3 linked regions of the Homo sapiens genome follow. The protein of the gene in region 2 interacts with the protein of the main gene of each other region in a pairwise test. Each region holds a gene or a part of one and is shown on either strand. Other genes may lie near its edges.

The links. The genes of interacting proteins can lie anywhere in the genome.
Region 1: the proteins of KATNBL1 (region 2) and ZNF572 interact in binary tests that used the Homo sapiens proteins (3 or more experiments, as listed by UniProt).
Region 3: the proteins of KATNBL1 (region 2) and TUT1 interact in binary tests that used the Homo sapiens proteins (3 or more experiments, as listed by UniProt).

The regions. Positions count from the first base shown.
Region 1 is NC_000008.11:124,968,618-124,977,108, forward strand, and holds the start of ZNF572 (zinc finger protein 572), read left to right. Parts: upstream 1-4,677; 5' UTR 4,678-4,799; intron 4,800-6,988; 5' UTR 6,989-7,023; coding exon 7,024-7,102; intron 7,103-7,730; coding exon 7,731-8,491. UniProt on the Homo sapiens protein: May be involved in transcriptional regulation.
Region 2 is NC_000015.10:34,206,065-34,214,570, forward strand, and holds the start of KATNBL1 (KATNB1-like protein 1), read right to left. Parts: upstream 4,033-8,506; 5' UTR 3,887-4,032; intron 1-3,886.
Region 3 is NC_000011.10:62,580,710-62,589,072, forward strand, and holds part of TUT1 (speckle targeted PIP5K1A-regulated poly(A) polymerase), read right to left. Parts: coding exon 8,322-8,363; intron 993-8,321; coding exon 677-992; intron 498-676; coding exon 397-497; intron 1-396. UniProt on the Homo sapiens protein: Poly(A) polymerase that creates the 3'-poly(A) tail of specific pre-mRNAs. Localizes to nuclear speckles together with PIP5K1A and mediates polyadenylation of a select set of mRNAs, such as HMOX1.

The sequences.
Region 1 (8,491 bases), on a different chromosome or scaffold from region 2:
CAGGAGGCAGAGGCTTCAGTGAGCCAAGATGGTGCCATTCTACTCCAGCCTGAGGGGACAGAGAGCGAGACTCCATCTCAAAAACAAAAAACAAACAAAAAAAAGAATTTCTGGTGGACACAGTTCAGTTCATAACACCAACTCTTCTCTGCAGGAACGCATAATGAAAGAAAGTGGTAATGGTTATTGAGCAAACCAATATACAATATCCACCACAGCTTTAAAAAAATAAAGGTTAAATTATTCATTTCAACATAAGTAATAGTATAAGTTCAGAAGCAATATAAAAAACAGGTTAAATAAATACTGTTATATTTACCCAATGGAATATCATGCAACTGTTAAAAAAAAGAATACTGGGAGCTCTATGATAAATGTCTGTACTATTATAAAAAACTCTCGGTTGGGTGCAGTGGCTCATGACTGTAATCCCAGCACTTTGGGAGGCTGAAGCAGGTGGATTGCTTGAGCCCAGGAGTTGGAGATCAGCCTGGGCAACATAGTAAGACCCTGTCTCTACAAAAAACGAAGCAAAACAAAACAAAAACAACAAAAAAACCAAAACCCAAAATTAGCTTGGAGCTGAGAGTGGTAGCACACACCTGTGGTCCCACATACTTGGGAGGCTGAGGTGGGAGGATTGCTTGAGCCCTGGAGGTTGAGGTTGCAGTGAGCTGAGATCATGCCACTGGACTCTAGCTTGGGGGACAGAGTGAGATCCTGCCTCAGAAATTAAAAAAAAAAAAGAGAGAAGAAAAGAAAACTCTCCATGTTGTTAAGTGAAAAAACTAAAATTTAGAACAAAGTGAATAGTTTACTATATGTGTAGCAAAAGAAATGTATGAATATATGTCATCTATCTTTATTCATTACCTATATATGTGTATATATACATATGTATATAAGCAGGTAGGTAGGTATTTGCTCACATATGGCATTATCTGTGAATAATACACAAGAAACATACAACGTTGGTTGCCCCAGTGGTGAGAAGAACTGGATAGCTGGGGGCAGGGATGAGAGAGGACATTTCATTTTATGTATGTATTTTGGAGGTTTTTGTTCATTTGCTTGTTTGTTGAGAAAGCAGATTCTGAGACTGAGTTTAGTGTCCAGGGTGTTGATTAGGAAATGGCCTTGGTATCCAAACCTGTGGAAGGGTGAGAAAGGAATCAGGATTGAGCAGAGGGGGAAGACCTACAATTTGGGCCTGACAACACATTCCTCCATCAAGGCCATCAAGAACTCAGGAGTTGGCTGGGCACTGTGGCTCACACCTGTAATCCCAACACTTTGGGAGGCAAAGGCAGGAGGATTGCTTGAGCCCAGGGGTTCACATCAGCCTGGGAAACAAAGTGAGACCCCCCTCTCTACAAAAAAAATTAAAAAATTAGCAAGGCATTGTGGCACGTGACTTTAGTCCCAGTTACTTAAGAGGCTGAGATGGGAGGATTGCTAGAACCTGGGCAGTCGAGGCTGCAGTAAGCCGTGATTGTGCCACTGCATTCCAGCCTGGGTGACAGAGTAAGACTGTCTTAAAAAACAAACAAACAAACAACACTCAGGAGCTGAAATAGTGCATTTAAGAGTTATCCTGCTTTGGACAACATGGACAGCCTTTTATATTTCTGCCTTGATCAGTCCCCAGACGTGGGCTGCCTTGGAAAGGGCATGAGCTCCAGAAAGGCTATTCTCTGAAACTGAAGCACTCCCTGAGGGAGCTAACAGCTGAAAGCTTTCTGTTCACAGCACTCTCAAAGGTGGGCAACATGTACTTCCTTGGATTCTGAGTGATTCATCTCTGTGTCTGTCACTTACGGCCTATATGATTATGATCTAACCTCTTGAAACTTCTCTGACCTTACCTCCAAGTACTGTTCACTTCACTTGCTCTGCTCCTTATTGTTTCTTGAGTTTCCATCTCAGAGTCCTTTTTCTTACTGTTCCTGTCTTAATTGTTCCTCCCTTAAATAACAATGAGGCCCACGACTTTCTTCCTTCATACTTCTGCTGAAATATCTGCCTACTGAGAGGACTTCCCTGATCACCTTACCTGAAATAGTACACTTCCTTTAACTTCCTTTACTTCTTTTTCTAATACTCATCACTGCTTAACATACATTTCTTTGTTTACTTTTTGTTGATGTTCATTTATGATCTCCCTCACATTGTTTGGTTCCCTGGTGTATCCTCAGTGTCTAGGATAACACAGTAACAGGCACATAGTAGGCTTTCAACAAATATTTGTTGAATGAATGAATGAAGGAGTCAGGCACTGTGCTAAGTTGTAAGATAGAATTACAAGCAAAAGTGGAGGCAGGCCTTGTTCTCATGGAGCTTGCTATCTGGATGGAGAGGCAAAATAATGCATCAATCACACAAAGCTGCAGTCATGACATGGGCTAAAATGGAAAAAAAGATATGGTAGGAGAAGAGCATGTAGAAGAGCCTTGAAAGCTTCTGTGAGAAAGTGATGTGTAAGCTGAAATCTGAAGGATGAGTAAGCTTCAATTAGGCAAAGGAACATGGAAGAATCAGGTTCATTTTTGGAAAAGATCCCTCTGGATTCAACAGGGAAGAGTGAATGAGAGGGAGCAAGGATGGGTATCTATGGGACTGTTAGGAGGGTATGGAAATCCTTCAAATGGGGGGTGATGGTTGCTTGAATTAGAGGTGACCCTGGTGGTTAGAAGAAACAACTACAGGTGAGAATTATTTATTACACAACAGATGAGGCTTATTTATGAATTGTATATGGAAGGTAAGGAAAGGGAAGTGAAAAGAAGGGCTTCTGGGTTTCCATATAACTGGATGGATGGTTGAAAGAATATTGGAAGAGAAACAGGTTTATTTTGTTTTATTTTGTGTTTATATGTGTATATGGAGAAGAACAGTGAGAGAGAAGACAGATTATGATTTTGATTTTTGACATTTTGGTTTTGAGGTGTTATTGAGACTTCCTGTATGAGATGCCAAATAGACCATTGGTTATGAGTGAAGAGCTCAGACATGTAGCTTGGGCTGGAGAAGTAAATTTTTGAGTTGTCTGCCTAGGTGGTATTTGAAAATGTGGGAGTGGATGAGATTGCCTAGGCAGAGAACATTCAGTGATAAGAGGAGAGGATGATCTTGAGGGACTGACTTGGAAAAGAGACTAACAGGACTGACTAGAGATGTTGGAAGAAAAGGAGGAGAATGTGATGTCACCTCAAAAGAGTGTTTCTAGAAGACGAGTCCGTAGCCATATCAAACCTCCTGAAAAAGGACCCGAGAACTAAAAATACCAGTTGCACTAACTAACATCATGGAGGTCATTGGTGATGCTAGTGATTTTTTTGTTGTTGTTGTTGCAGGAGAAATGTTAAGGTTAGTGGAAAATTGATGAAATGGAAACATTGTGAGTAAAAAGAGAAAAGAAAAGCTGAGGGACTATTTGGGGATGGGGGTGGAGGGATGGAGAGTTTAGTTGGTAGTGCGAAGTTTCCAAGAAGATAGGTAGGAAAGTGAGTACCAGTAAAGGGCTTATTAAAATACCAAAGAGCCCAGCACTTTGGGAGGCTGAGGCGGGCAGATCATGAGGTCAAGAGATCAAGACCATCCTGGCCAACATGGTGAAACCCAGTCTCTACTAAAAATGCAAAAATTAGCTGGGCATGGTGGCGCACACCTGTAGTCCTAGCTACTTGGGAGGCTGAGGCAGGAGAATTGCTTGAACCCGGGAGGCAGAGGTTGCAGTGAGCCGAAATCCTGCCATTGCACTCCAGACTGGTGACACAGTGAAACTCCATCACAAAAAAAAAAAAAAAAAAAAAAAAGGTCACAGAGGGACTCTGTATTGTAACAGGAGGGAAGAAAGAAAACGGCAGGGTGCAGACTTGAGTAGATTTCTGTTTGGTAGAGGTGAGATGAAGGGATTGGCTTCTATTTTCTCTGTAATGAAAGAGGAGGGATTAACTACTTTTCTAGGTGTTAATAAGGGTGCCTTGTAAACGAATTGTTTTATATGTGAATGGATGCCTTAGCTTTCTAACTTTCACAGGTAAGTAAATATATATCCATGTTCATAGCGGTGGGAACAGAAACAATAGGTGTTTAAAAATACTAGATTGAGGCCGGGCGCGGTGGCTCACGCCTGTAATCCCAGCACTTTGGGAGGCCGAGGTGGGCGGATCACGAGGTCAGGAGATCGAGACCATCCTGGCTAACCCGGTGAAACCCCGTCTCTACGAAAAATATAAAAATTAGCCGGGCATGGTGGCAGGCACCTGTAGTCCCAGCTACTCGAGAGGCTGAGACAGGAGGATGGCGTGAACCCAGGAGGCGGAGCTTGCAGTGAGCCGAGATCGCGCCACTGCACTCCAGCCTAGGCAACAGCGAGACTCCGTCTCAAAAAAGAAAAATACTAGATTGATTTTGATTCTAATAGTGATGATAATTAATCTGATGATATTCTGATGGCAAGGAAAAGTATAAGCTCCAATCAGGCCCCTGTCGTAAGCCGCCTGACAAGTGAGAGAAATGAGGTTCACAGTTGGCTGGTCACAGCACAGGGAAAGGAAATCCACCCCCACGCTCCTTCTGGTCCAGGACCCTAAGGGTTAAGATCAACGAGAGTGGGCCATCACTGTTTCCTAGAACGGCCCCAGCAAAGCCGCCGGGGGAGATGAGGGTAACTTCCTGTTTCTGCCTTCCGGGTTTGAGAGTTTAGGACCCTGGGTTGGTGGGGTCAGAGGGAGAGGGGGTACCTTCCTCCCGGACCGCTGGGGGTGCAGGGCGCCTTGGGTGTAGCACCCAGAACAGTGAGTTCCTTCTTGGGGGGAAGGGAGCCGAGGGTTGCGGGCTAGAGGAGTGGAAACAGCCCCGTCCAGGCTGCAGTGGACGTCCGGGAGAGAGTTCCCGCTGCTGCCAGGGGCGAAGGCCCAGCATCTCCCGCCGACGGGCCACCGTCATCCTTGTCCGCGGGGTCCCTTACGGGATCTTGTCGGCCGGAGACCGTCTGGTATCCTGGAACTTCACCCCCCAGCGTCTCCAACTTGTACCAGCCAGCGGTTCTTAAAACTAGGCTTCAGGCAGTGCATTTTCTTTGAAGGCTTTCTGATCAAAGCACGGCCCCACTCTGATCACATTGTTGCTCTAGAACAGTGAAAACACTCCTTCCCCGTGGAGAGACATCTTAATGGCAGCCTTGTATGGTCTTGCATTTGCCACCATTTTGCTGAGCCACTGTTCCGGGGGCTCCTTTGCTGCCAAATTTAATAGTATTTTAGTAGGGAAAATGGGGGAGATGGTAATGTGTTGCCCAGACTCTTGCTGCTTTTGTAAATACTTTGATAACAATATGTAACTTAGGACAGCAAAATATATAACTCCATTCGAACAACTCCACCCCCTTCCTTTTTTTGCATTCAGGTGTATGGTTTTTTCTCCCCCCCAACTCAAACACTGGGGATATTAGTAATGTAGACTAGTTTCACGTTTCTCTAGAACAAATCCCCACTTGCTGAGTGTGCTTAGGGAATGTCGACTCACTTTGTTAACAAGGTTTAGGAATGTAGACCTCTGTTTTAAAATGCCAGTATTCTAAATATTCTAAAATAAAGGGACTCTGAGGATTCTTTGCAGTTTGGGATTATGCCCAGCTCTGCTTCCTGTTCTAGTTTACGATAATAGATCAGAGGGTGAAAAAGGTCAGCATCCAAACAGACTTGGAGCTCAGTCCTGCTCTACCACTTTCTAGGTGACCTTAGGAAAGTTTCTTAATACCTTTCAAACTCATCCTATAAAATGCTGGTAGTTGTTCATACACTTCAGAGGGCTACTGTAAGAATTAAATGACAAATGTGTGCAAATTATTTCATTCACTACCTGGCACATAATAGGCAGTAATGGTGAAGATACAATATAAGTACATATACTATTTTTTGTTTTTAAAATGTGTGCATTTGTATATCCTTTTACGTCCTTATTTTTCTCCCAAATAATGATACTCTTTATATTCTGAAATGGATGCCAAAAGTCCATATGTCACTGCCTTCCTGTGATAGATCACATTTTCTTCTTTTTCTTTTTCTTTTTTCTTTTTTTTTGTTGAGACAGAGTCTTGCTCTGTCACCCAGGCTGGAGTGGTGCAATGGCACGATCTCGGCTCACTGCAACCTCTGCCTCCTGGGTTCAAGCGATTCTCCTGCCTCAGCCCCCTGAGTAGCTGGGACCACAGGCGCCCGCCACCACACCCGGCTAATTTTTTGTATTTTTAGTAGAGATGGGGTTTCACCGCATTAGCCAGGATGGAACATTTTCTAGTCCCTTAAAATAGGTTAGTGATTGTTGGCTCCAGAAGACGAAGTTTAGGCTGAAATGGATATTGTGAATATGATAGACTTAGGAACTAAGTGCAAGGAGGAAGAGGTCCCTCTTTAGCCTCCTTTTTATATTGCAGGGTTATTGGCTATAATTATTCCACCTCGGCTTTGTCCTAATTTCTCTTTACTGGTTATATAAATCCTAACTTTCCTTTGAAATTGACTTCAAAGGTTTCCTTCTGTCAAGACCAAGTTATTCTTTTGAAACTAAACAGGGTGCTTTTTTTCTTTAGCTGCTGCTTATGCCTTCATATTGATTCCTTGAAGTCTTTATAAGTTTTATTATTGGTGTCTTAAAAAAAATACTTTGCTTTTTAAAGTAAAAGTGTTTCTAAGCTACGTGTGGACAATGAGGATTAGTATTCTGTCTTTGAAGCTTGATCCTCAGACCTTTAATGTGAAGATTTACTTTTTTGCATTGTTATTTCAGGGTTAACCCTTAATTCTAAACACTTAGATCTGAGATAAGATTTTCTAAAAGGGCTGCTAAAAGTTGTGTTTCTTATTTTCGGTATGGTTCATGGAACATTCTATGCCTCCTATTGTTGTGTTGGAATGGTTGGGAAGGAAGGAGGAAGAATAAGCTTTAACAAATACCTCCAAACATAATTTATTTCCTTCCACAGGGTTTCTGATCTCTAACTTGGCTGTGATCATTGTGATGGAGCAAGAAAAAAAACTGTTGGTCTCAGATTCTAACAGCTTTATGGAGAGGGAGAGTTTGAAAAGCCCTTTCACAGGTGAGGGATCAAGACGATGATCTGAATCCTTAGGAAATTTGATGTAGAAAGAACAGGACACTAGAATGAGACAAACCTTAATTTAATTCCTTGTTCTGTCACTTATAAGCTGTGTTAATTATTTCAGCCTCATTGTTCTCATCTTTAAGAAAATGAATAATATCTATTTCACATATATTTTAGAATTAGTGAGATACCGTATCCAAAGCTACTGTTCTTAATAAATAGTGGCTATTGTTATTTCTATAGCATTTGCTCAGATTTTAGCAAAGCTATTGTCTAGTTTTTACCTGAGATGGTATCCTGTTCAATTTAACTTCTATTCACATCAATCCTGTTTTTTCTCTTAAGTCTTCTAGAACAAAACCTAATGCATTTATTTTTAGATTGATGTTCCCTTTGCCAATAATGATTCAAATAATTCATTATTGTTGTTGCTAGGTACAAAAAAAAATCCACCTGCTTCTGGTAAACAGAGGAAAAGAAGTAAAACTGTCTTTAAAAACTTTTTTATATGAAATTATTTATGAGGTTTTACAGTGTTATTTCCTCTCTTCCACTGCAATTTAGAATTTACTTCTCTGGCAGAGATTTGGAATATGGTTAGAATATTTGTTTATTCTTGCAGGAGATACAAGTATGAATAATTTGGAAACTGTTCACCACAATAATTCTAAGGCAGATAAACTTAAAGAGAAACCTTCAGAATGGTCTAAAAGACATAGACCACAACATTATAAGCATGAGGATGCAAAAGAAATGCCACTGACATGGGTTCAAGATGAGATTTGGTGTCATGATTCCTATGAGAGTGATGGCAAGTCAGAGAATTGGGGAAATTTTATAGCTAAAGAGGAGGAAAAACCCAATCACCAGGAATGGGACTCAGGAGAACATACCAATGCCTGTGTCCAGCAGAATTCATCCTTTGTAGACAGACCCTATAAATGTTCCGAATGTTGGAAAAGCTTCAGTAATAGTTCTCATTTGCGTACTCACCAGAGGACCCACTCAGGAGAAAAGCCTTATAAATGCTCTGAGTGTGCAAAATGTTTTTGTAACAGTTCTCACCTGATTCAGCATCTAAGAATGCACACAGGAGAGAAGCCCTACCAGTGTGGTGAATGTGGGAAAAGCTTCAGCAATACCTCCCATCTTATTATCCATGAGAGAACTCACACGGGAGAGAAACCCTACAAATGTCCCGAGTGTGGGAAGAGATTCAGCAGCAGCTCTCACCTTATTCAGCATCACAGATCACATACAGGTGAAAAACCATATGAATGTTCTGTCTGCGGAAAAGGCTTCAGTCACAGCTATGTCCTAATAGAACATCAGAGGACTCACACTGGAGAAAAACCTTATAAGTGCCCTGATTGTGGGAAGAGT
Region 2 (8,506 bases):
TCAGATGAGATTAAATCACTTGCCCAAAAACCCTTAGTTACTAACAGGCTTAGCGTTGCGACTTACAGTAATAGTGCCTTTCCCACTGTAACACCAAGCTGTGCATCTTAAGAGTATGCTAGTGGGCAGAGGAGATGCTAGAATGAGCATCTCATGACTCATACATAGGTGGTAGGTTTCTGGGTGACTTGCTCAAGGCAAAAAGAATTTCAGACAGTATATAAAACTGAAGGAGAGAGAGGTAGTTACAGGAAGCAAAAAAGGGAGTCCTTTCAAAATACCTTTTCTCTCATTTCTACCCTCATTATGCTCCAAGAACAAGAATGGTAAATATAACGCAGAAGTCTCCAAAGTTAAGGGGTATTAAGCTGGTAGTGAAAAAATACTTAGATGAGCAAGAAATAGTAAACACAGCATTTGAACCTGGCAAAGAAAAGTCAAATTACGCCGGGCATGGTGGCTCACGCCTGTAATCCCAGCACTTTGGGAGGCCGAGGTGGGCGGATCACCTGGGTCAGGAGTTCAAGACCAGCCTGGCCGACATGGCGAAACCCCGTCTCAACTAAAAATACAAAAATTACCCGGGCGTGGTGGTGGGTGCTTGTAATCCCAGCTACTCAGGAGGCTGAGGCAGGAGAATAGCTTGAACCCGGGAGGTGGAGGTTGTGGTGAGTCAAGATCTTGCCACTGTACTCCAGCCTGGGAGACAAGAGCAAGACTCCGTCTCAAAAAAAAAAAAAGAAAAGAAAAGTCAAATTACACCCTTCCAATTTAAAAAGTGTATGCTCCCAGTAAAAGTACCATTTGTATTAGGTTTAAGGTGTTTAATTAAAAAACATTATATTCCTAAATACATTTTCCAGAAAGCACCAAATTAACTAACATGGATCAACAAATATAATGATTGATAAAACATCAACATAATACTGACTAGTGTAATGTTATGATGCATCTTGTTGTTACTAGACAATACTTTTTTTTTTTTTTTTCCCTGAGACAGGGTCTTGCTTTGTCACCCAGGCTGGAGTGCAGTGATATGATCATGGCTCACTGCAGCCTCCAACTTCTGGACTCAAGGAATCCTCTCACCTCAGCCTCCCAAGCAGCTGTGACTACAGGCGCATGCCACTACACCTGCCTAATTTTATTTTATTTTATTTTTGAGATGGAGTCTCACTCTGTCGCCCAGGCTGGAAGGCAGTGGTGCGATCTCGGCTCACTGCAACCTCTGCCTCCTGGGTTCAACCGATTCTCCTGCCTCAGCCTCCCAAGTAGCTGGAACTACAGGCGTGTGACACCACGCCCAGCTAATTTTTTGTATTTTAAGTAGAGACAGGGTTTCATCGTGTTAGCCAGGATGGTCTCGATCTCCTGACCTTGTGATCCACCTGCCTCAGCCTCCCAAAGTGCTAGGATTACAGGCATGACCCACTGGCCCTAATTTTAAAATGTTTTGTAGAGATGGAGTCTTGGTATGTTGCCCAGGCTGGTCTCAAACTTCTGGGCTCAAGCTTTCCTCCTACCGTTGGCCTCCCAAAGTGCTGGGATTACAGGTGTGAGCCACACCAGTTCTGTGGCTGCACTGAAGTGCAGTGGCACAATCTCGGCTCACTGTAGCCTTGACCTCTTGGGCTTAAGCGATCTTCCCACCCCAGCCTCCCAAGTAGCTGGGACTACAGACACATGCCACCATGCCTGGCAAAATATTTTAAATTTTTTGTAGAGATATGGTCTCGCTATGTTGCCTAGGCTGCTCTCGAACTCCTGGCTTCCAGAGATCCTCCTGTCTTGGCCTCCCAAAGTGTTGGGATTACCAACCCTGCCTAGCCCCACCATCCACCCTTCTGTTCAGTGCCCTACATAAATCCTGCAATTGTTAGTTTTTCGCAGAAGCTTTACCCAGTTCAGTTCTGCATTCATCCACTGTACTAACGAAGAGTGTCATATATATTTTTTGTTGTTAATCTCATAACCCAAACTAGATTAATCTCCCTAAGGTTGGTTGTCCTGGCACATTTTTTATTTTATTTTTATTATTTTTTATTTCAATAGGTTTTTGGGGAACAAGTGGTGTTTGGTTACATGAATCAGTTCTTCAGGGGTGATTTCCGAGATTCTGGTGCACCCATTACCTGAGCAGTGAACACTGTATCCAATGTGTAGTCTTCTATCCTTCATCCCCCTCCCACTCTCTTTCTACCAAGTCCCCAAAGTCCATAGTGTCATTCTTGCGGCACATTTCTTTTGTATAGCCAATTGGGTCTACCACCCTGTTGGGCATACAGGCAATCGAAAGCTTTGTAACTGATGAATGACATTTAAAAGCTCTGCTATAGATAAGTATAAACTGCTGATTTCTTACTAAGTGATTTTGCTTTTGAAATTTATTCCTTGTCAAGGAGGTATTAGTTTAAGTATAACCATTTCAAGTACAGAATAACCACTCAATAAGTTTTAGGGATGAAAACATTTAACATGTAATTTTTTATTTTAAAGTAATACATAAGTTGCTAAGACTAACACTTTCAAAACTTTCAGGAAAGGATATAAAGGAATTGAAAACATAAATTATAACACACATAAAGCTTATGAACTCCATTTATCTTAAAATAGTCAATGGATTTTTTGCTCAGGCACAAACCTTAAGTATAATCATCAAGAGCAGAAAACTTGAATGAATGGTGTGTGAATGAATGTATGTGTACACAAAAGCACACTCAGGTCTCCGAAGTTTAAGTAAATGAAATGAAAGGGCTTTGTAAACTAAAAAGAGCCACAGATAAAGGAGGTAGTAGAGCAACAGAGTTAAAAGCGTGGAGCCAGCCTGCTCGGGTGTTAATTATATTAGCTGTGTAACCCTGTACGGTACAAAAGTTACAATACTAAAATTTCCTGTGCCTTAGTTTCTTCACTGTCAAAATGGGGACAACAGTATATATCCCAAAGTAAAGCTCTTAATACGCCCAGCGCATAGAAAGCACAAAATAAATATTGCCCATCATTATGATCACACTGGCTAATATTATTATTGGCTAATATTAGTTATTAGCCAAGTAAAAGCCTCAATGGATGACGTTTCAATTCAAGTCTGAAGCTGGCTATCCAAAGAAACTCCAAAAAACCCAGCAGATTTAAGCTATTAGGTGGACTAGTTTCTCATAATTCTCGCAAGTGCTGAACTGATGATTATTACACACCTAATTTCTCTTACAATTTTTTTTAAATCAGCAAAGAAACTGACATAGGTATCTCTGTTTTCAAGGAACTTTATAAGCCACAAGAAAACAAACCAACTCTTTGTTATCTCCATATTTAAGCAATATAAGAGCGTAGTAAAAGCCTAGATACTTTACAGAACAACTTTTCAGAAAATACAGTAAGGTTTTTAAAGTTGCAATCGACAATTCTTATGCAGTTATGTCAAGTTTTTGTCCTGCGAAACAAAAGCTCATCCGTCAGGAATCCGAGGACCCGTCGGAAAATAAGGAAATGCCTGGGCCGGGCCTAGGCGCTCTGCGGAAAACCTGTCCTCAAAAATGCTCGCCCCACACTCGTTCTGTCCTTCCCCTTCCCCAGGTGCAGCTGTCGACTCCACCCGAAGATAAATAAGTGACAACAGGTTCGGTCCACGCCTCTCCCGGCCCAGTCCCCTGGAGCCCCCCAGCGCCCGCTGCCCGACTCTCCCCGCAGGGACCGGCAGAGGGGCTCCGCCCCGGCCTTGCCGCCCCGCCCCGGGACCCGGCAGCGCTGCCGCGAGCCCGGCCGAGCCGAGGCCGCCGCGGGGCCTGCAGGTGGGCCCAGGGCGCGGCCAAGCCCGGCTGGAGTAGCCCTGCCAGGGCAGGGCAGCTGCGGGCGCGGGGCTCGCACCGGCTCGGCAGTCACTTACCGGCGCCTCATGGTACCGCGGCGCCTCAGCCCAGCCTCGGCGCTGACGACCAGCGCCCGGCAGCCTAGAGAGTCCCTCGGCTTCTGGGCCGAGTCCCACTCAGGGCCATTCAAACGCGGCCGCGCGCGCGGCCCGCCGGGATAGCTGGCGCTGTGGGCGGCTCGCGGGCTCCGCCCAACGTTGGCTCCGCCCCTCTGGGGGTCGCTAAGGGCCGGAGGGGAAAAGGACCTGTGGCCACAGTGCCCCCTGGTGGCTAGAGCTTCGCACGGTAGCCTTGCTATGGCGCGAGAAGTGATACTGCGATAGGAACTGAGGGTGGGTAAAGGTCAACGAATGACCGACCGTGCGCTAGGAACAACCTAGTGTGGGAGACCGTGCCTTAGTGGTGTACCAGGAGGTGCAAACAATTTCCTATAAAGTTATGGTTCCGGGAGAGATTTATTCATTCACACCTATTTAAATACACTAAGAGTCTGGGCACAGTGGCTCACACCTGTAATCCCAGCACTTTGGGAGGCCGAGGCAGGAGGTTCACCTAAGCCCAGGAATTCAAGACCAGCCTGGACGACATGGGGACAACTACCCCCCACCCCCCACCTCCGCCCCCGTCTCTATAAAAATAAAAATGATACTAATAAACGCTCTAAGGCATAGTTTCTAAAAGCATGGATTGTGGAACTATGTGACCTTGAGCAAGTCACATAAACTCCTAGGTGCTTTGCTTTCCCCTTCTGTAAAATGGGGACAATAACAATAGTATCTGTCTCTTAGTGTTGTGAGGATTAAATGAATTAATACATATAAAATGCTTAGAGGAGTGCCCGGCATATGGTAAGCCCTTCGTGTTTGTTAGTCATCATTTTTTTAGTTCCTATTATGTGCCAAACTTTGTGCTAGACTCTTAAGAACACAAGAAATGTACATGATGCAGAACCTGTCCTCAGGAAGCTGGTTCGGTCTTGTTGGGATGGGGAACACTAAATTAGATTATGAGGTTAGGGTTGGGTCTGTAGATGATGAACTTTTAATTACTGAGGGCAGTTCTCTTCATTAGAACCAGGCTGCTCACCTTCATAGATAAGCCACCGGTCAAGGTTAGCCAAGCTGTGACAGGAGCAAGTTTGTCTATGGTGGTTCTCTCGCCCCTTGCAGAAACCAACCAAGCAGTGCCTTTGGTGGAAATACTTCCTCACCACAAGACTACATCCCTTGGCTTGCTTTTTCAGGCACTCATTTCGGAACTCAAGGCTTGCCTAGGGAGCAGGCTGCTTAAGTTTGGTTTAACAATCTTTTTGAAGGCCCGCCATGTGCCAGGCAAATTGTGCCTGGTGCTGGAAATCGCCTGAAGCAGCTCTCAGTGGCTTGAAAAACAGGAAAAGAGATCATTCCAATACACTGCAGTGATAAAAGGTATCTCCTAAATGCCGTGGGAGTTCCGAGCAATGGGAGGCCTGTCAGATAAACTGATCAGAACTAAGATGTCATCAGGTTGTTATAACTTTATGTATTTTTCCTCCCTAGTAACAGAGTCCTTACTTAATCAAAAAAAAAAAAAAAGTCATGTTGAAAATTGAGGCAAGACCTTAGGGCAGTGGGAAAATAGTTTTAGGATATTTGGCATAAGCAACACCTTTGAGAGCTTCTCGATTGTACCAAGCATAAGCAAGGCACATACATGCCTATGTGTGGGGCCACATCTGTTAACAGGTGGTACTGTTGAGAGAGTCCAGCTAGGTGAGTAAAGGAAGCTGGAGCCCTAGGTTCCATGTATGTACAATAAAGAATATTTCCTGAATATGACTTCCACTAAGTAGATGTGTTGTTTTAAAGAAAATAAAAATTCAACACACATGGGTGAAGTCACTTTCTCTCAAGTCATTTCTTCATCATCATGAACAGGAATTTCTTGATGACCCACTATGCAAAAGGCACTGTGCTGGCCTCTCATCAGAAGAATAGGGTAAAAAGAGTGTACTATATGATCGTTATCCTCAAGGGAGGCTAAAGAATTAAGACAAGTAATGGAGTCCTGGAACTCAGGGAATCTGCTGTGTTAACACAGAAGAATCTCAGCTAATACAAGGCCTCCAGTTGCTGGAGGCCAGAGAAGAACCTTGATATTCTCATTTCTGGAGCTTGTTAGGGCACAGGATCTCAGGCAGGTTAATCTCCAGAGCCAAGTTATAAAGTTTGTATCAGTGATGGGCAGCCCAGGCCCTCACATCTCATAATTTCACATAAAAATAAGGAAAACTGCCTTTGCATTGCTACTTTTGGAATATATACAAATACTGTCATTTTAGTGATGAAAATGCAAGGCAACTTTCTTCATTGATACTTTTCCTATCAATAAAGTTGAATTTTTCCCCCTTGGGGCTCAATAAAATTTGAATTCTTACTAAAAAAAGGTACAGCCCATACATTAAAAAAATCCCTACATCAGTGTTTGTGTACAAAAAGGTGGTTTACTGATAGCCTTCGTGGTGGGCAGTCTCCAAGGGTGTCTACTCCTCTGGCCATTCCTTCATTCCTTCCTTCTGAGAGAACACGCAGCTAAGTTAGCCTTCCTGCCTCACATCCCCCTCTCTACGGGGTGCAGAATCATTCAAGGACACAGTGTAGAGTGACCCACATGAGAAAAGAGCTGCCATGCAGTCCTGTGTACACTGCTTGATGGCAAGCAGGGGAGGGATGGTGGAGCTGGGCCTGATGAACTGGAGAGGACAGACAGGATGTTCCTGACAGAGAGGTGGAAATGCAAAGTAAGTTCTAGTACTGCAGTCTATTCTGATTTGAGTGGAGGGAAAAGTGCTTGCAAGAGTCACAGGAGTGAAGACTGAAAAGGTACGTAAGGCACCTGATAGGTTGCGAAGACCTGGAATTATCAAGCAAAGTGTTTGAGGTGCAAGGAGACAGCAAAGACAATTGAGCAGGGGAATGACTAAGTCAGTTCTTTAGAAGGATTGATCTGTTTGGGAGGCCAAGGTGAAAGGATCGCTTAAGGCCAGGAGTTTGAGACCAGGCTGGGCAACATTTCAACACCTCAACTCTACAAAAAATTTAAAAAATAGTCGGGCATGGTGGTGCATACCTGTAGTCCTAGCTACTCGGGAGGCTGAGGTGGGAGGATCACTTGAGCCAAAGAGCTCAAGATTATAGTAAGCTATGATTATGGCACTGTAGTCCAGCAAGAGAGCAAGACCCTGTCTCTTAAAAACAAACCAACCAAAAAAAAAGCAAGAAAAAGAAGAAGAAGAGTTGATTTGTTACCAGGATGCTGGATGGCCAGGGGTAGGGAGGAATGACTGATAGCAATAACATTAGGTATAAAAGTGTAGTTCCGTCTAGGGTCCTAGAAGCCATATCATTTACTGCATTGTATGTCATTCTCATTGAGACCAATGCCGATTCTGACAGAGAACAATGCCTGAAGGGACCTAAAAGACAGCAACAGCTCACCCATTCCACACTGCTCAGCCTCAGCACCTTTGGAAAATTCTAGGCAGTTGACTTTAGCAGTCAAAGTGAGAAGTCAATCCCTTTTTTCTGCTCCTCCCTTCCCTACCTTCCTTTGCAGGCTGTGGAAGGAAGTAATGGCAGAAGCAGTAAGCAAAAAAAACAAAAACAAAAACAAACCCAAAAAACAAAACAAAACCCCTGGTAGTGTTTTTTGCGGGGTGAAGGGTGGGTGGTAGGGAGGTGTTGAGTGATGGGGGATCCTATTTTTAAGATAGCTTGTTTCTGCTACATCTACAGCCCTCTATTGTAAATCTACAACTGAGATCAGGTGACCCAAAAACATTTATGACTATGATAATATTTGGTATTTATAGACTTTCAAATCCGAATCTCAAGAAACCATCTCTCTCCTCCTGCAAGTACATTTCCTGCAATTAGACTATACTGTCACCAGGTGGAACGTGGTGGGGGCAGCATGTTAGACTAGCCTTGGAGCAAGGCTCATCTCTATTTAAAACCTAGATTGCTGCCTTTGGGCCGTTTCTACACCGGTTTTTACCTTAATGTGCAATGGGGATAACACTCTCCTCTCAGGGGCTGTTGGGAAGTGGGATAACCTATATAAAACATATACAACAATGCCTAGAGCAGTGATTGTGTCTCTCTCTGAAAAACTGAGTTTAGTGATTTTTCCAAGATAGAGAAGAATACAATATGGTTGACTGCTGCCTTGGAAAAGGGAAGTCCTGGAATTAGACTACCTGGGGGTCAGGGTGCAGGAGAGGGTGAAGTGTCAATGTTGGGGGTGGGGTCAGGAGGCACGGAACAGACTCACTGTGATGCTGATGGCCTGGTAACCAGAACAGGGTACCTGAAAAGTCCTATCATATGCAAAACAAATCCAATTATGTATGCAGTTGCTGGTGGAGGTGGTGGGGGGAGGGGAGATGTTCAGTACAACTGGGACCCCATAACAGGTGAAGTACAGAGGAGTTCCTGGCGAGCAGGCAAGCAGGAAATAAAATGCGCTAGCAGTTAGCAGGGCAACAATCATCAGAAGCAGAAAGTCCTTGGGAAGAGGACTTAAAAGAGCAAAGCAGGTCCCTAGCCTCAAGAGACAGGAGCAGTAGAAAGATTACTAAGACACTTCTTGGAGCCAGA
Region 3 (8,363 bases), on a different chromosome or scaffold from region 2:
CTCCTGCCTCGGCCTCCCAAGTAGCTGGGACTACAGGTGTACACCACACACCCAGCTAATTTTTGTATTTTTTTTTTAGTAGAGATGGGGGTTTCACTATATGTTGGCCAGGCTGGTCTTGAACTCCTGACCTCAGGTGATCCACCCACCTCAGCCTCCCAAAGTGCTGGGATTACAGGCGCGAGCCACTGCGCCTGGCCCTGTCAGTTCATTTTCATCCTATCTAATACTCATCCATATTCACATCTCTCCAATTACAATAAACTCTTTCAGGTAGGTCCTATTATCTGCATTGTAGATGAGGAACTAAGACATGGAGAGCTAAAGGACTTGCCCACAGTCACATGGCCATTCTCATGGACTTTTCCCAGCTGCCTCCCTGGGACACTCACTCACCTGGGGCTCTTCCAAGTCACCCAGATCCAAGAAGAGGTCAAGATCACAGCCATGGACATCGAAGCTATTTATGGAAGAGCCAAAAGGGTGGACCACACAGCCTGGGTGCCGAGCAGAGAAGAAAGGTCAAGAGAAGTTAGGGAGGAGCAGGGGGAAGAACAAAACAGAGCACAAAGATGGAAGAGCAACCAAACACCTCTAGCGGAGGAAGGACTGGGGATACAGACACAGGAGAGCAAAGGCCAGGGAGGGCTCAGACATAGTAGGGGAGGTAACTTACCAGGGAAGAACTCTGTGAAGACCTCCTGCATCAGGGCCACCACTAGGCTGCGAAGCTGCCGCTCGGCCTCGGACAACTCCCTCAGCCCCACAAGCTTTATCATTTGTGCCCCCACGTCTGCAGCCTCAGCTAGCGCTTTGGCCAGCTGGTGACTGTCGGGGGCCGCTCCTTTGGGGGATTTGGAGGCCGGGCTCTGGAACTCCTTCTGCTCCCGTGGGCGGACACGCAGGCGATGTCCTCCCAGGCTGTGCTGGGACTGTGACAAGACAGCCTCTCGAGCACCCACGTCCCCCATCTCCACAATGGCAAACACTCCCTGGTAAACAACAGGGGCAGAGATGATGATTTTGGAACCAAGAATCTAAGCACGAGATCTACAGTGGATGAGAATATTTGAAATGGAGACTATCCCATAAATTGAGAATATTTGCTTGCTGTTTTCATAATAACAGGGGACATATCTAGAAAAGCAATTTTCAGCCAGGTGCAGTGACTCATGCCTGTAATCCCAGCACTTTGGGAGGCTGAGGCAGGAGAACTGCTTGAGCCCAGGAGTTGGAGACCAACCAGGGCAACATAGTGAGATCCCATCTCTACAAACAATTTTTTTTTTTTGAGATGGAGTCTTACTCTGTCACCCAGGCTGGAGTGCAGCGGGGTGATCTCGGCTTACTGCAACCTCTGCCTCCCAGGTTCCAGCGATTCTCCTGCCTCAGTCTCCCTAGTAGCTGGGATTACAGGCACATGCCACCATGCCCAGCTAATTTTTGTATTTTCAGTAAAAATGGGGTTTCACCATGTTGGCCAGGCTGGTCTCTAATTCCTAAACTCCTAAACTCGGCCTCCTAAAGTGCTGGGATTACAGGTGTGAGCCACTGCACCTGGCCAGTACAATTTTTTTAAATTAGCCAGGTAATCCCAGCTACTGGAGAGGAAGAGATGGGAGGATTGCTTGAGCCCGGGGGCTGAGATTGCAATGAGCCGAGATCGCACCACTGCACTCCAGTCTGGGTGACACAACCACACCCTGTCTCAAAAAAAAAAAGAAAAGAAAAAGAAAATTAGCCAGGCATGGCAGCACACACCTGTAGTTCCAATTACTTGGGAGGCTATGATAAGAGCATCACTTGGGCCCAGGATGTTGAGGCTGCAGTGAGCTGTGATTGTGATTGCACCACTACACACCAGCCTGAGAGACAGCGAGACCCTGTCTCAAAAAAAAGTAGAAAAACAATTCTTTCCCTCACTCCTATTCCAAACATTTTACTCTCACCCCAGTCTGCCTCTAAAAACCTCATTTTATCTACATTATTTGTCCCCTACTCTTCCCAATGATGTGATTACACTATGACCCACCCTATAACTTTTCCTGATATAATTAGAATTTTTTTAAACATTTATTAAGGATCCATGTAACAGAATGAGTCCACTTTAAAAATCTTTTAAAAAATCAATTCATGCAGCTGGGTGCAGTGGCTCACGCCTGTAATCCCAGCACTTTAGGAGGCCGAGGTGGGTGGATCACGAGGTCAGGAGATAGAGACCATCCTGGCTAACATGGTGAAACCCCGTCTCTACTAAAAATACAAAAAATTAGCCAGGCGTGGTGGTGGGCGCCTGTAGTCCCAGCTACTAGGGAGGCTAAGGCAGGAGAATGGCATGAACCCAGGAGGCGGAGCTTGCAGTGAGCTGAGATGGCGCCACTGCACTCCAGCCTGGGCGACAGTGGGAGACTCTGTCTCCAAAAAAAAAAAAAAAAAAAAATCAATTCATGTAATAAACACTGTGCGAGGCATAAATACAAACTCATAAACCCTGTCTTCAAGAACTCACTATCTAGGAATAACAGCAATATAACAACTATATTGTTGTAAGTTGGTGAGTTCAATGATATTCACTGGCCATATTTTTTTAAAGGTAAAATATTAGCAAGAAGAGGAAAAACGCCGGGCGCAGTAGCTCACGCCTAATCTCAACACTTTGGGAGGCCTAGGCGGGTGGATCACTTGAGGTCAGGAGTTCAAAACCAGCCTGACCAACATGGCAAAACCCCATCTCCACTAAAAATACAAAATTAGCCAGATATGGTGGTGCATGCCTGTAATCCCAGCTACTCAGGAGGCAATTGCTTGAACCCGGGAGGCGGAGGTTACTGTGAGCCGAGATTGTGCATTGTACTCCAGTCTGTCCAGTCTGGACAACAAGAGCGAATCTCCGTCTCAAAAAGAAAAAAAAAGAAGAGGAAAAACAGGACTGCTTTAGGCAAAAAAGTCCATATTCTTTTATATCCTCCAATGGTAAAGCTGGACCCTCATCTTGTTTATAAAAAGGTTCCTGCTAGAGTAAGGTAGCACCAAGACAGAGTGGTGCTAGCATAAAGATAGACATTCAGATGAAGGGAATGGAATTGAGACCCTGAAAGAAATTCACACATCTTTGGTCAACTGATTTTGAACAACGGTGTCAAGAAGATTCAATGGGGAAAGAACAGTCTTGTCAACAAATTGTGCTGGGACAACTGGATAGCCACATGCAAAACAATGATGTTGAACCTTTACCTCACACCATACATAACAATTAACTCAACCAGGAGGATGGCTTCACCAGTACACAGGCCTAAATCACAAATGGGAAGTAACCAAGAAAGGATAAGGCGTTTCTTTTTGGAGTGGTGAAAACATTCTGGAATCAGTCATGAGGGTTGAAGAACCCTGTGAATATACTAACACTCACTGAATTGTATTTTTTTTTTTTTTTTTTTGAGACAGAGTGTCTCTGTCACTCAGACTTGAGTACAGTGGCACACTCTCGGCTCATTATTACCTCTGCCTCCCGGGGTTCAAGCAATTATCCTACCTCAGCCTCCCTAGTAGCTGGAATCAAAGACACGCACCACTACACCTGGCTAATTTTTGTATTTTTAATAGAGATGTGGTTTCACCACATTAGCCAGGCTGGTCTCAAACTCCTGATCTCAAGTGATCCTCCCACCTCGGCCTCCCAGAGGGCTGGGATTACAGGTATCAGCCACCACACCCACCCCTAAATTGTATACTTTTTTTTTTTTTTTTTTTGAGATGGAGTTTCGTTCTGTCACCCAGGCTGGAGTGCAGTGGCACGATCTTGGCTCACAGCAACCTCTGCCTCCCAGGTTCAAGTGATTCTCCTGCTTTCTGCCTCCCGAGTAGCTAGGATTATAGGTGCCCACCACCACACCCAGGTAATTTTTTGTATTTTTAGTAGAGATGGGGTTTCACCATGTTGGCCAGGCTGGTCTCCAACTCCTAACCTTAGGTGATCCACCTGCCTCGGCCTCCCAAAGTGCTGGGATTACAGGCCATGAGCCACCATGCCCAGCCAATTGTATACTTTTTGTTTGTTTATTTTTTTACCCAATAGTAAATAACCAACCAATGAATTGTATACTATTTATTTTATTTTACTTTTTTTTTTTGAGAAGGAGTCTCGCTCTGTTGCCCAGGCTGGAGTGCAGTGGCACGATCTCGGCTCACTCCAACCTCCGCCTCTCGGGTTCAAGCAATTCTCCTGCCTCAGTCTCCTGAATAGCTGGGATTACAGGAATCTGCCACTACGCCCAGCTAATTTTTTTGTATTTTTAGTAGAGACGGTTTCACCATGTTGGCCAGGCTGGTCTCAAACTCCTGACCTCAGGTGATCTAACCACCTCAGCCTCCCAAAGTGCTGGGATTACAGGTGTGAGCCACCTGGCCCGGCCACACCCTTCTTTTTTTAAAGACAGGATTTTGCTCTGTCACCAAGACTGGAGTGCAGTGATGTGATTATAGCTCACTGTAGCTTTGAATTCCTGGGCTCAAGCGAACCTCCCGCCTCAGCCTCCTCAGTAGCTGGGATGATAGGGGCACATCACCATGCGCAGACTTACTTCTACCCCTATGCCAAACACAGCAAAGAACTGAAGTGAGGCCAAGGACAAAGGTAGCTACTTGGACCTGCCCAGGCCAGTCTTCTGACTCTAATAAACCACAGTTTACCAGACTGCAGTACACCACCAAGTTTGTAACCAAAGCCCCAGATGGAAATTAAGAGTCTCTTTCACTGGGCCTGTCTGTGCTCCTATTTTTCTCCAAAACCTCACAGAAGGCATCAGGGAGGGCAGGACTGGCAGATTCAGAAGACTGTGTCAGCTGGGCGTGGTAGCTCATGCATGTAATCCCAGCACCCTGGGAGGCTGAGGCGGACAGATCATGTGACGCCAGGAGTTCCAGACCAGCCTGGCCAACATGGTGAAACCCGTCTCTACTAAAAATACAAAAATTAGCCGGGCATGGTGGCAGGCGCCTGTAAACCCAGCTACTCAGGAGGCAGAGGTTGCAGTGAGCCAAGATCGTGCCACTGCACTCCAGCCTGGGAGACAGAATGAGACTCCACCTCAAAAATAAATAAACAGGCCTGGCACGGTGGCGCACGCCTGTAATCCCAGCCTGTAATCCCAGCACTTTGGGAGGCCGAGGCAGGCGGATCACCTGAGGTCGGGAATTCCAGACCAGCAACATGGAGAAACCCCATCTCTACTAAAAATACAAAATTAGCCAGGCGCGGTGGCGCATGCCTGTAATCCCAGCTACTCGGGAGGCTGAGGCAGGAGAATCACTTGAACCCGGGAGCCAGAGTTTGCGGTGAGCTGAGATCGCCCCAAGCCAAGTTCGCGCCACTGCATTCCAGCCTGGGCAACAAGGGCAAAACTCCATCTCAAATAAATAAATAAATAAAAATAAGGAGCCTGTGTCCTTGCCATTTTTGTCCTCTCAACACCACCATCCATAGCTAGAGTTACTATTTGTTGAGGGCTTATTATAAACTAAGCAGTTCACACAAACGATGTCTGAGGCTCATAAGACACCTACGAAGTATGTATTATTATTTCCATTTTACAAATTAAGAAACTGAAACTCAAAGAGGTTAAGTAACTTGTAACTGCCTCACAAGCAGTGTCTTAAACTCCCAAATCTCCAACTGCCTACTGACCATTTCCCTTAAGAGAATGTTGTGGAGATTAGATGCAAGTGTACATAATGTGCTTAGCACACAATTGATGCATAGTAGTTCCTCAATAAAAATGTTAATCATTAGGCGGAGCACAGTGGCTTACGCCTGTAATCCCAGCAGTTTGCGTGGCTGAGGTGGGCAGATCACTTGAGGCCAGGAGTTCAAGACCAGCATGGCCAACATGGAGAAATCCTGTCTCTACTAAAAATACAAAAAATTAGGCCAGGCACAGTAGTTCACACCTGTAATCCCAGCACTTTGAGAGGCCGAGGTAGGCGGATCACCTGAGGTCAGAAGTTCGAGACCAGCCTGGCGAACATGGTGAAACCTGGTCTCTACTAAAAATACAAAAATTAGCCGGGTGTGGTGGCACGCGCCTGCAGTCCCAGCTACTCGGGAGGCTGAGGCGGGAGAATTGCTTGCTGGGATTACAGGCGCCTGCCACCACACCCAGCTAATTTTTGTATTTTTAGTAGAGATGGGGTTTCGCCATGTTGGCCAGGCTGGTCTCGAACTCCTGACCTTAGGTGATCCTCCCACCTCAGTCTCCCAAAGTGCTGGGATTACAGGCGTAAGCCACTGTGCCCAGTCGAGAGAAATACTTTTTCTAAAGGCCTCCTCAGTAAACTTCTACTTATATCTCAGTGGCCAGAATTCTACCACAAAAAAACTCCCTCTCAAAAAAAAAAAAAAAAAAAGGAAAAAGAAAAGGCATTTTTCTCAGAATAAAAGGAAAAAAAATAGAGGAGGGGACTCAAACTCAGCTGACACTAACCTTTTTTTATGAGATGGAGTTTCGCTCTTGTTGCCCAGGCTGGAATGCAATGGCGCGATGTCGGCTCAAGGCAGCCTCCGCCTCCCGGGTTCAAGCGATTCTCCTGCCTCAGCCTCCCGAGTAGCTGGGATTACAGGCATGTGCCACCACGCCCCGCTAATTTTGTATTTTTAGTAGAGACGGGGTTTCTCCATGTTGGTCAGGCTGATCTCGAACTCCCGACCTCACATGATCCACCCGCCCCAGCCTACCAAAGTGCTGGGATTACAGGCGTGAGCCACTGGACCTGGCCGACACTAACCTTTTATACTCTGCCCTACAAGCTGCCCCTTCTTCTTTTCTGAAGATATGGGGCAGCAGTATCGTAACTATGAAGAGCCACATACCAATAATGGCAGAGCAGGAAAACAGCAAAGCCCTGAACTGTCCAGGTCTGGACTTCTTGTTACATGAGAAAAACTAAATTCCTATTGTTTAAGCCATTTGTAGTTTGGTTGCTGAATGCAATCCCTAACAAACACAGGCTCCACCCCATTCTAAAAGATAACCTGGGCTGCAAAGGGATATTTTGGATCACCTAAGCCATGCCTACATAACAAGAGTACAGCCTCAGAACCACAGTATGACCAAGGAACACAGCACCTCAACAGTGAACTTTTTTCAAGGGACCAAAACCTACAGGGAAGCAACACAAAAAGCACAAGCTTGTTTATCTAACACTCTCCAAAGGACAGGGTGTTCTAACCAAACAACCTTAGTACCCTCAGTGTAAGTTAATAAACTGCTAACTGGTTTATCAACCAGGTTCTTGTGGAGTTGATCCAATGGTATGTTGTTCTTTAAGCACCAACTTTCACTATAATTACTTAATTGTTTACTTTCTCCTCTAGACTATAGGCTCTGTGAGAGCAGGGACCATATCTACCCCATTCACTACTCAGAATGCAGCCCTAAGCATAGTGCCTAGTACAAAGTTAGCTGTGAATAAATATTTGGCAAAGAATTCACTGAATCAATAGATGACACACACAAAAAAATCCCCCAGTGACTAACTCTGGTGAAGTGATAAAATCCAAAGGGTGGGACTGGGAGCAGTGGCTCACGCCCGTAATCCCAGCATTTGGGGAGGTTGAGGTGCACGGATCACCTGAGGTCAGGAGTTCGAGACCAGCCTGGCCAACATGGTGAAACCCTGTCTCTACTAAAAATACAAAAATTAGCTGGGCATGGGGGCACGCGCCTGTAATCTCAGTTGCTTGGGTGGCTAAGGTGTGAGAATTGCTGGAACCCAGGAGGTAGACGTCACAGTGAGCTGAGATTGTGCCACTGCACTCAAAAATATAATAATAAAAATAAAAATTCAAGGGGTGGGGGAGGTGTGAGAAGCTCCCAAAGCTGGTCTAGCCCAAGTACTGTGATGTCCATCAAGAATAAGCCACATTAGGAACCAGCTCAAAGAGGCTGTTGGTTTCTCTCTCTTGTCTCTTTGGTACACAGCACATCTGATTCATTCTTTTTTTTCTTAAGACGGAGTCTTGCTCTGTAATCCAGGCTGGAGCACAGTGGCACGATCTCAGCTTGCTGCAACCTCCACCTCCCGGGTTCAAGCGATTCTCCTGCCTCAGCATCCCAAGTAGCTGGGACTACAGGCATGCGCCATCACACCCAGCTAATTTTTTATTTTTAGTAGAGATGGGGTTTCACCATGTTGGCCAGGCTGGTCTCAAACTCCTAACCTCAGGTAATCCGCCTGCCTCAGCCTCCCAAAGTGATGGGATTACAGGCGTGAGCCATCGCGCCCAGCACTGATTCATTCTTTAACCCGAGAGCCATTCACTTTACCTTGTCCTTGTCCATGACAACACTGGCCACAGGTCCAAATGC